Regions from separate parts of the Homo sapiens genome. Here region 1 is linked to region 2. Evidence: fine-mapped expression QTL. A gene starts in region 2. The other region holds a variant in brackets. All regions are shown on one strand. Distances are between the middles of the regions. Region 1 overlaps TMEM244 (transmembrane protein 244). Region 2 holds the start of TMEM244 (transmembrane protein 244).

The links. PIP is the estimated chance that this variant, and not a neighbour inherited with it, causes the effect. A credible set is the group of variants that fine-mapping cannot tell apart.
Region 1: its variant is the best candidate, but not a certain one, in a credible set for the expression of TMEM244 in whole blood (TOPMed, PIP 0.54).

What each region holds. Positions count from the first base shown.
Region 1 is chr6:129,835,082-129,840,465 of GRCh38, forward strand. All of the region lies in intron 3 of TMEM244 (transmembrane protein 244), which reads right to left. Among named protein-coding and RNA genes, the nearest start is that of TMEM244, 24 kb to the right of the region's middle. The variant C/G (reference allele first, on the strand shown) is at 3,255.
Region 2 is chr6:129,857,915-129,863,298 of GRCh38, forward strand. TMEM244 (transmembrane protein 244) reads right to left here and starts at 3,401. Exons shown (of 5, transcript NM_001010876.2): 1 at 3,242-3,401. The coding sequence starts at 3,274. It overlaps LOC105377999 (a long non-coding RNA gene), which reads left to right. Exons shown (of 8, transcript XR_942986.3): 2 at 1,416-1,511.

The DNA of each region.
Region 1 (5,384 bases), 23 kb before region 2:
TCGCTTTTACAGCATAACAGTCATAAGACCTTGTCTGGGCACTGTGGTTCACACCTGTAATTCCAGCACTTTGGGAGGCCGAGGTGGGAGCATCACTTGAAGCTAGGAGTTCAAGGCCACACTGGGCAATATAGCAAGACTCTGTCTCTAAAAGAAATTGAAAAAAACTTAGCCTGGCATAATAGTGTGCTCCATAGTCCTAGCTACTCAGGAGGTGGAGATGGGAGGATCTCTTGAGTGCAGGAGTTTGAAGTTACAATGAGCTATGATCATGCCACTGCACTGCACTCGAGACTGGGTGACAGAGTGAATCTCTGTCTCTTAAAAAAAAAAAAAAAGAGTTATGGAGTCACTTCCAAGATGGCTGAATAGGAACAGCTCTGGTTTGCAGCTCCCAGTGAGATCGACGCAGAAGATGGGTGATTTCTGCATTTCCAATTAAGGTACCTGGTTCATCTCATTGGGACTGGTTGGACAGTGGGTGCAGCCCATGGAGGGCAAGCTGAAGCAGGGCAGGGTGTTGCCTCACCCGGGAAGCACAAGGGGTGGGGCGATTTCCCTTTCCTAGCTAAGGGAAGCCATGACAGACTGTATGTGGAGAAACAGTGCACTCCTGACAAAATACTGCACTATTCCCATAGTCTTAGCAACCGTCAGACCAGGAGATACCCTCCCATGCCTGGTTCGGCAGGTCCCACACCCACGGAGCCTTGCTCACTGCTAGTGCAGCAGTCTGAGATAGACCTGCGACGCTGCATCTTGATGTGGAGATGGGCGTCTGCATTGCTGAGGCTTGAGTAGCTCACAGTGTAAACAAAGAGGCCTGGAAGCACGAACTGGGTGGAGCACACCACAGCTCAGCAAGGCCTACTGCCTCTATAGATTCTACCTCTTGGGGTAGGGCATAGTAGAACAAAAGGCAGCAGTCAGCTTCTGCAGATTTAAACGTCCCGTCTGACAGCTCTGAAGAGAGCAGTTGTTCTCTCAGCATGGCATTCGAGCTCCGAGAACAGACAGACTGCCTCCTCAAATGAGTCCCTGACCCCCGTGTAGCCTGACTGGGAAACACCTCCCAGTAGGGGCCGACAGACACCTCAAACAGGCAGGTGCCCCTCTGGGACGAAGCTTCCAGAGGAAGGATCAGGCAGCAATATTTGCTGTTCTGCAGCCTCCACTGGTGATACCTAGGCAAACAGGGTCTGGAGTGGACCTCCAGCAAACCCCAACAGATCTGCAGCTGAGGGGTCTGACTGTTAGAGGGAAAACTAACAAACAGAAAAAAATAGCAACAAGATCAACAAAAAGGACATCCACCTCAAAACCCCATCTGTAGGTCACCAACATCAAAGACCAAAGGTAGATAAAACCACAAAGATGGGGAGAAACCAGAGAAGAAAAGCTGAAAATTTTAAAAAACAGAGCACCTCTTCTCCTCCAAAGGATCACAGCTCCTCGCCAGTGAGGGAACAAAACTGGGTGGAGAATGAGTTTGACGAGTTGACAGAAGTAGGCTTCAGAAACCTACTTGGTAATAACAAACTTCTCTGAGATAAAGGAGCATCTTCTAACCCATTGCAAGGAAGCTAAAAACCTTGAAAAAAGATTAGATGAATGGCTAACTAGAATAAACAGTGTGGAGATGATGTTAAATGACCTGATGGAGCTGAAAACCATGGAATGAGAACTTTGTGATGCATGCATAAGCTTTAATAGGTAATTCCATCAAGTGGAAGAAAGGATATCAGTGACTGAAGATCAAATTAATGAAATAAAGTGAGAAGACAAGATTAGAGAAAAAAGAGTGAAAAGAAATGAACAAAGCCTCCAAGAAATATAGGACTGTGTGAAAAGACCAAATATACATTTGGTGGGTGTACCTGAAAGTGATAGGAGAATGGAACCAAGTTAGAAAACACTCTTCAGGATATCATCCAGGAGAACTTCCCTAACCTAGCAAGGCAGGCCAACATTCAAATTCAGAAAATAGAGAGACACCACAAAGATACTCTTCGAGAAGAGCAATTCGAAGACATATAATTGTCAGATTCGCCAAGGTTGAAATGAGGGAAAAAATGTTAAGGGCAGCCAGAGAGAAAGGTTGGGTTACCCACAAAGGGAAGCCCATCAGACTAACAGTGGATCTCTTGGCAGAAACCCTACAAACCAGAAAAGAGTGGGGGCCAATATTCAACATTCTTAAAGAAAAGAATTTTCAACCCAGAATTTCATATCCAGTCAAACTAAGCTTCATAAGTGAAGGAGAATTAAAATCCTTTACAGAGAAGCAAATGCTGAGAGATTTTGTCACCACCAGGCCTGCCTTACAAGAGGTACTGAAGGAAGCACTAAACATGGAAAGGAACAACAGGTACTAGCCACTGCAAAAACATGCCAAATGGTAAAGACTTTAGACGCTATGAAGAAACTGCATCAATTAACAGGCAAAATAACCAGCTAACATAATAATGACAGGATTAAATTCAAACATAACAGTATTAACCTTAAATGTAAATGGGCTAAATGCCCCAATTAAAATATACAGACTGGCAAATTGGATAAAGAGTCAAGATCCATCAGTGTGCTGTATTCAAGAGACCCATCTCATGTGCAAAGACGCACATAGGCTCAAAATAAAGGGATGGAGGAAGATCTACCAAGCAAATGGAAAGCAAAAAAAGCGGGTTACAATCTTAGTCTCTGATACAACAGACTTTAAACCAACAAAGATCAAAAGAGACAAAGAAGGCCACTACATAATGCTAAAGGGATCAATTCAACAAGAAGAGCTAACCATCCTAAATATATATGCACACAATATAGGAGCATTCGGATTAATAAAGCAAGTCCTTAGGGACCTACAAAGAGACTTAGACTCCCACACAATAATAATGGTAGACTTTAACACCCCACTGTCAATATTAGACAGATCAACAAGACAGAAGGTTAACAAGGATATCCAGGATTTGAACTCAGCTCTGCACCAGGCAGACCTAATAGACATCTACCGAATTCTACACCCCAAATCAATGGAATATACATTCTTCTCAGCACCACATCGCACTTACTCTAAAATTCACCACATAATTGGTAGTAAAACACTCCTCAGCAAATGTAAAAGAACAGAAATCACAACAAACTGTCTCTCAGACTGATCTCTCAGATCACAGTGCAATCAAATTAGAACTCAGGATTAAGAAACTCACTCAAAACCTCACAACTACATGGAAACTGAACAACCTGCTCCTGAATGACTA[C/G]TGGGTACATAACAAAATGAAGGCAGAAATAAAGATGTTCTTTGAAACCAATGAGAACAAAGACACAATGTATCAGAATCTCTGGGACACATTTAAAGCAGTATGTAGAGGGAAATTTATAGCACTAAATGCCCACAAGAGAAAGCAGGAAAGAGCTAAAATTGACACCCTAACATCACAATTAACAATAGAGAAGCAAGAGCAAAAAAATTCAAAAGCTAGCAGAAGGCAAGAAATAACCAAGATCAGAGCAGAACTGAAGGAGATGGAGACACAAAAACCCTTCAAAAAAATCAGTGAATCCAGGAGCTGGTTTTTTGAGAAGATCAACAAAATAGACCACTAGCAAGACTAATAAAGAAGAAAAGAGAGAAGAATCAAATAGATGCAATAAAAAATGATAAGGGGGATATCACCACCGATCCCACAGAAATACAAACTACCATCAGAGAATATTATAAACACCTCTGTGCAAATAAACTAGAAAATCTAGAAGAAATGGATAAATTCCTGGACACATACACCCTCCCAAGACTAAATCAGGAAGAAGCTGAATCTCTGAATAGACCAATAACAGGTTCTGAAATAGAGGAAATAATTAATGGCCTATCAACCAAAAAAAGTCCATGACCAGATGGATTCATAGCCAAATTCTACCAGAGGTACAAAGAGGAGCTGGTACCATTCCTTCTGAAAGTATTCCAATCAATAGAAAAGAGAGAATCCTCCCTAACTCATTTCATGAGGCTAGCATCATCCTGATACCAAAGCCTGGTAGAGACACAACAGAAAAGGAGAACTTCAAGCCAATATTTCTGATGAACATCAACGCAAAAATCCTCAGTAAAATACTGTCAAACCGAATCCAGCAGCACATAAAAAAGTTTATCCACCATGAACAAGCTGGCTTCATCCCTGGGATGCAAGGCTGGTTCAACATATTCAAATCAATAAACGTAATCCATCATGTAAACAGAACCAATGACAAAAACCACATGATTGTCTCAATAGATGCAGAAAAGGCCTTCAACAAAATTCAATAGCCCTTCATGCTAAAAACTCTCAATAAACTAGGTATTGATGGAACGCGTCTCAAAATAAAAAGAGCTATTTATGACAAACCCACAGCCAATGTCATACTGAATGGGCAAAAACTGGAAGCATTCCCTTTGAAAACTGGCACAAGAAAAGGATGCCCTCTCTCAGCACTCCTATTCAACATAATGTTGGAAGTTCTGGCCAGGGCAATCAGGCAAGAGAAAGAAATAAAGCGTATTCAATTAGGAAAAGAGGAAGTCAAATTATCTCTGTTTGCAGATGACATGATTGTATATTTAGAAAACCCCATTGTCTCAGCCCAAAGTCTCCTTAAGCTGATAAGCAACTTCAGCAAAGTCTCAGGATACAAAATCAACATGGAAAAATCACAAGCATTCCTATACACAAATAATAGACAAACAGAGAGCCAAAACATGAGTGAACTCCCATTCACAATTGCTACAAAGATAATAAAATACCTAGGAATCTAACTTACAAGGAATGTGAAGGACCTCTTCAAGGAGAACTACAAACCACTGCTCAATGAAATAAAAGAGGACACAAACAAATGGAAGAACATTCCATGCTCATGAATAGGAAGAATCAGTATCGTGAAAATGGCCATACTGCCCAAAGTAATTTATAGATTCAATGCCATCCCCATCAAGCTACCAATGACTTTCTTCACAGAATTGGAAAAAACTACTCTAAAGTTCATATGGAACCAAAAAAGAGCCCACATAGCCAAGACAATCCTAAGCAAAAAGAACAAAGCTGGAGGCATCACGCTACCTGACTTCAAACTATGCTACACAGCTACAGTAACCAAAACAGCATGGTACTGATACCAAAACAGATATATAGACCAATGGAACAGAACAGAGGCCTCAAGAATAACACCACACATCTACAACCATGTGATCTTTGACAAACCTGACAAAAACAAGAAATGGGGAAAGGATTCCCTATTTAATAAATGGTGCTGGGAAAACTGGCTAGCCATATGCAGAAAACTGAAACTGGATGGCTTCCCTACACCATAAACAAAAATTAACTCAAGATGGATAAAGACTTAAATGTAAGACCTAACAC
Region 2 (5,384 bases):
GGAGTGGTTCAGGAACGGTTGCCAATTTTTGTCAAAGGCAGTTTTAGCGTCTATGAAGATGAGTGAAGATGGTCATATGATTTTCTGCTTAGATATATGAACATCTAAATTATGTTAGTAGATTACCTAATATTGAACCATCCGTACATTTTTGGAATAAATGTCACTTGGTCATGATGTTTTATTTTTATGACGAGTTCTTGGGTTCTGTTTGCTAATATGTTTAGATTTTTCTGTATTCATAAGTGAGATTGATCTATAGTTTATTTTTTGTACTATATTTATATGGTTTAGGTGACAACATATTTCTTGTTTCATAAAACTTTCTTGTGGCTTTTCTTGTTTTTCTATACTCAAATGATTTAAGTAGCATTGGGAGTATATGATCTTTGAAGACTTAGGAGAATTCTTTTGTGAAATCTAGGCCTAGTCCTTCTGTAATAGCCTTCTCCATTTAGTCTATGGAAACTGGAAGCCCTTGTGTGATTTTGCAAAGCAGAATGTTCCCATTGCCTACAGTAGCTTCACTCTTCTTTACAGAGCAAGTAGCTATATTCTCTAGGTCTGGCTCATATATCATCTTCTCACTCCACCCCTCACTGCAGGACAGAATCAATCTCTATCTTATTTTAATTGCTTCCATAATATTATATTTGTCTTATAGATCTCATCAAATTTGTATTGTAGCATACCTACTTTTGGAGGTATACATTTCTTTCTCCAGTCTCTAAAAGACAGACACTGATTTGACCACATTTAATTCTTCAGCCCCCAAAATATTGGTCAGGCTTTCATAGGTATTCAATAAATATATTTTGAATAATAATCATGGAAGGAAGGAAAGAAATAATGGAAGACAAGACCACTATAGTAGGAACCATAGTCTTTTTTTTTTTTGAAACAGAGTCTTGCTCTGTCACCCAGGCTGGAGTACAGTGACACAATCTCAGCTCACTGTAACCTCTGCCTCCCGGCTTCAAGGAATTCTCTTGCCTCAGCCTCCCTGAGTAGCTGGGACTACAGGTGTGCACCACCACACCCAGCTAATTTTTGTATTTTTAGTAGAGATGGGGTTTCACCATGTTTACCAGGCTGGTATCGAACTCCTGACCTAAAGTGATCGTCCGGTTTGGCCTCCTAAAGTGCTGGGATTACAGGCATGAGCCACCACGCCTGGCCGGAACCATAGTCTATTAATAAAGTATGTGGACTCTAAGTCAGATCCACTGGAGTTTCTCCCCCAGTTCATCACTGACAAGTGTGTGACATTGGCTGGTTACTTTCTGAGTTTTGTTCTACTCATCTACAGGTAAAGTTTCATAAGGGATTTGTATTCTGAACATGTATACAATTCTTAACATTAAGTACTGTATGTTCCCAATAGATAATACTTTCTCTCTTACTTCTCCCCATAGGAAAGACTGCATTGTAGTTCTTTGGACAATTCCTGGAGAAATCATGAGATATGACTCTCTCACTTGTAGAATCACAGCAAAGGCTCCGTCCTACTGGTAAGTAGTTCCCTCTGAAATTGCCTGAATGAATGAAATTCTCCAGTTCAGGTGAACAACTCTGAGGATATGCAGGAATGTGTTGTGCTTCTGAGATTTTTACAACATTTGTTTTACAGAGGAAAGTTTACATTAGTTTAACATAGTTAGGAAACATGCCGTCTACTGGAGTAGAATACATTGTATTCTGAACAGTTTAGCAGTCCTCATACTTGGGCTTTCTTCCCAGTTCTTGTGCTATTTTCCCAGACAGCAAATTAATTAAATGGCCTTTGGCCATGACTCTTTCCCTTGAGTCAGCTTTTCTGTCATTTAAAGTGTACAGATAGGGGGGATTTAATTAGCCCAATGCCTGGCACATTGCATGCACTCAATAAATGTTTGTTGAGTATTCGAGTTATCTCTAGATGAAGGTCACTTTTGCTATTACTATTAATTTATAAGCATATCAGTAATTCTTGTGCTGATAATATTGACAGTGAACAAGCACTTAAAAGAAAAGTTAACTCATAACTTATAGGGATGTATCATGAGAATTCAGATAGTCAACAACCTATCTATTTTGAACATATTCACTATTCTTCTAATGTTCTAAGGCTCTAATTCTACACTTGAAGCTCAGATGATTCTAAGATAGTGAGGAACTGCAGCAACTATCTGGATATTTTCTCTGCAATGCGTGTGTGTGTGTGTGTGTGTGTGTGTGTGTGTGTGTGTGTGTGTCTGTCTGTCTGGTCTGTGTAAGCCCCGACTAAATATAGAGCCCCCATTCTTTGTGTAAGCTACTTAAGAGAAAGGATTTTATCTTCTAATTTTTATCTCTTCAGCAGAAGTTATTATTGCTAGTTCAATCCCAAATCTATACATAAATTACGAAGTTTAATAACCCCTTAAAAATAAGCTTTTTAAAAATATTTTTCCTGAAATAATGTTTTACTGACCTTGAAAATTTTTCTTAGCTGTTGTCATGCTCAACATTTCTCACTGATGACATATGTGGTGATGATGGTAGTGTAAAGAAAAAGCTTGAGGAAATACACACGGTGCTGATATTTTACTAAAATGAATGTAGCACTCACTCATAATTGTAATTTAATTTTTAAGTAAAAATCTGATTTTCCACTATCATTCCCTTAAGTCTGGCTCATTATAGGCCTAAAGCCTGTATGAATTTACACAGCTGCTTTGAGGCTTTGCATATTTCCTTGTTTTCGATTGTTTGATTTTTTTTTAAAGGGGTATTTTTGCACTGAAGTAAAACACAACTATTAACACTAGCCTCGGGGGAAAAAGAAACTAACAAACCTACAGCTTGAAATGTTTCAACACTTTGCATTTAAAATTTTGCGCACCCTTTAGAAGTTACAAAAATAAAAGCCACTCCCTGCAAAAAAAAAAAAGAAAAAAAGATTGAGAACAAACTGTCATGATTTCAGAAAACGATAGCAGACGTGCAGGTGCTAATACCAGAGAGCTTACCTCCGAATAAAATGGTGCCTTCTAAACAGCGACTATTTACATGTTTTAGAATCCTTTCTTGGGCATGGGTGCCTTTATATTGCCCTATTACCACAAGATGCAAGCCGTGCAGCAGAATGTTTTCTGTATGGTACCCAGCCAAAAGTGAAACAAGTTGCCCACTGACAGAGAGGCCATTTATAGAACATATTCATTTACACCAGTGCTAGGCAGCAACTGAAAGGCAATGCAAAGAAGTAATTTCTCTTTACCTTGCTTGGAGCAACTCTGACCTGGAGAGCCATGTACACATCCTACGTCAAGGAGGTGATGAAAGCCCCACTCCTTATAGCGATGACATCTGGAAGAAGACACAATTGTCACCGTGAGCTTTTCAATTACTCCTGGAGACTAAGTGTGAGACGCAGTAGTGCAGGATGATTGGATTACGCAAAACGAGACAGATGCCATCTGTGAGCCACGCGTAAGCTGCTAAGTGCCAAAATGAACATCCTTATTAAACGATGGAGTTCTCATACCATTTGTAGTTTGGTCAGATTTGAAAGATGAGTTGATTGTTTTTAGATAGTGCGGCAAATAGGCAGGGACTTGGAATCCTCTCTGGCTGTATGAGTAATTACTGTCTCATACTTAAATTAGAAACATGGGTTTTCAGTTAGGTCTTGAGATTGTTTCCAAAGGATGCTGCTGCATTCATGTTGAAGCGTGGCCTGTCCTCTCTGTTTCACTCACAAGGGCCACAGAGTTCTGAGAAAGAAATCATCAGTTCCTTTCACATCATGGCAAAGAAATGTAAAACTTATGACTTTTTGTTAGGAAACAAAAGGGTTCCCATACTCTAAAATAATGGCCACAATATTGTGGGTAGAATGTTTTCAAGAACTGCCAGGAGGCAGTATTGGAGCTCTGTCTCTCTGCGTCCTGAGGCTCCAGAACCAATCCTTCATTTACAATTCATTCTCCCATCTTTTTACTGGCACCAACTCTATTATTATTTTTATTTTAATTTTTAATTGCTGTGATTACATAGTAATATAGTAATATACCCCATAGAGTTTATGGGGTACATGATATATTTTGATATAGGCATCTAATATGTAATGATCACATCAAGGTAAGTGGGATTTCCATCACCTCAAGCATTTATTCTTTGTGTTACAAGCAATCCAATTATACCCTTTTAGTTATTTTTAAATGTACAATTAAATTATTATTGACTATAGTCACTCTGTTGTGCTATCAAATACTAGATCTTATACATTCTCTCTCTTTTTTGTATGCATTAACCATCCCCACACTCCCCCTTTTCTCCCACTACCCTTCCCAGCTTCTGGTAACCATTCTTTTACTTTCCATCTCAATGAGTTCAATTGTTTCCATTTTTAGTTCCCACAAATAAGTAGGAACATATGAAGTTTGTCTTTCTGTGCCTGGTTTATTTCACTTAACATAAGGACCTCCAGTTCCATCCATATTGTTGCAAATGACAGGATTTCATTCTTTCCTTTGGCTGAATTCTATTCTGTACCTGTACCACATTTCTTTATCCACTTGTCTGTTGATGGACATTTAGGTTGTTTCTTAATCTTGGATATTGTGAAACATGCTGCAATATACATGGGCATGCAGATACCTCTCCGATAGACTGATTTCCATTCTTTGGGGTATATGCTCAGCAGTGGGATTGCTGGATCATATGGCAGTCCTATTTTTCTCTTTTGAGGAACCTCCAAACTGTTCTCCATAGTGGCTGTACTAATTTACATTCCCACCAGCAGTGTATGAGGGTGTCCTTTTCTTCACATCCTCACCAGCATTTGTTATTGCCTGTTTTGGGATAAAAGCCATTTTAACTGGGGTGAAGTCATATCTCTTTGTAGTTTTGATTTGCCTTTCTCTGATGATCGATGATGTTGAGCACTTCTCACATACCAGTTTGCCATTTGTATGTCTTGTTCTGAGAAATGTCTATTCAGATATTTTGATCATTTTTAAATCATATTATTAGATTTTTTCCTCTACAGTTGTTTGAGCTCCTTATATATTCTGGTTGTTAGCCCCTTGTCAGATGGGTAGTGTTTGAGTATTTTTTTTCCCATTCTGCGGGTTGGTGTCTTCACTTTGTTGATTGATTGCTTTGCTGTGGCACCAACTTTAGATGGGAACTTAGCTGTGCCCTGTAATCCTTTTTCCATTACAGCATCTTGTTAACCGCTATAAAGAGCACATTCTGCAATATCTACCTGCATACCAAAAGCAAAGGTGAAAAGAGTGCCTTCAGCAAGTCCAGGCCTTGATAGTTTTCATCTGAATATGTTATTGAATTTGACATTCATAATGCATATTAATAACACTGTCAATGCTCTTTTATTAATATACCTTAGATAAATCTTT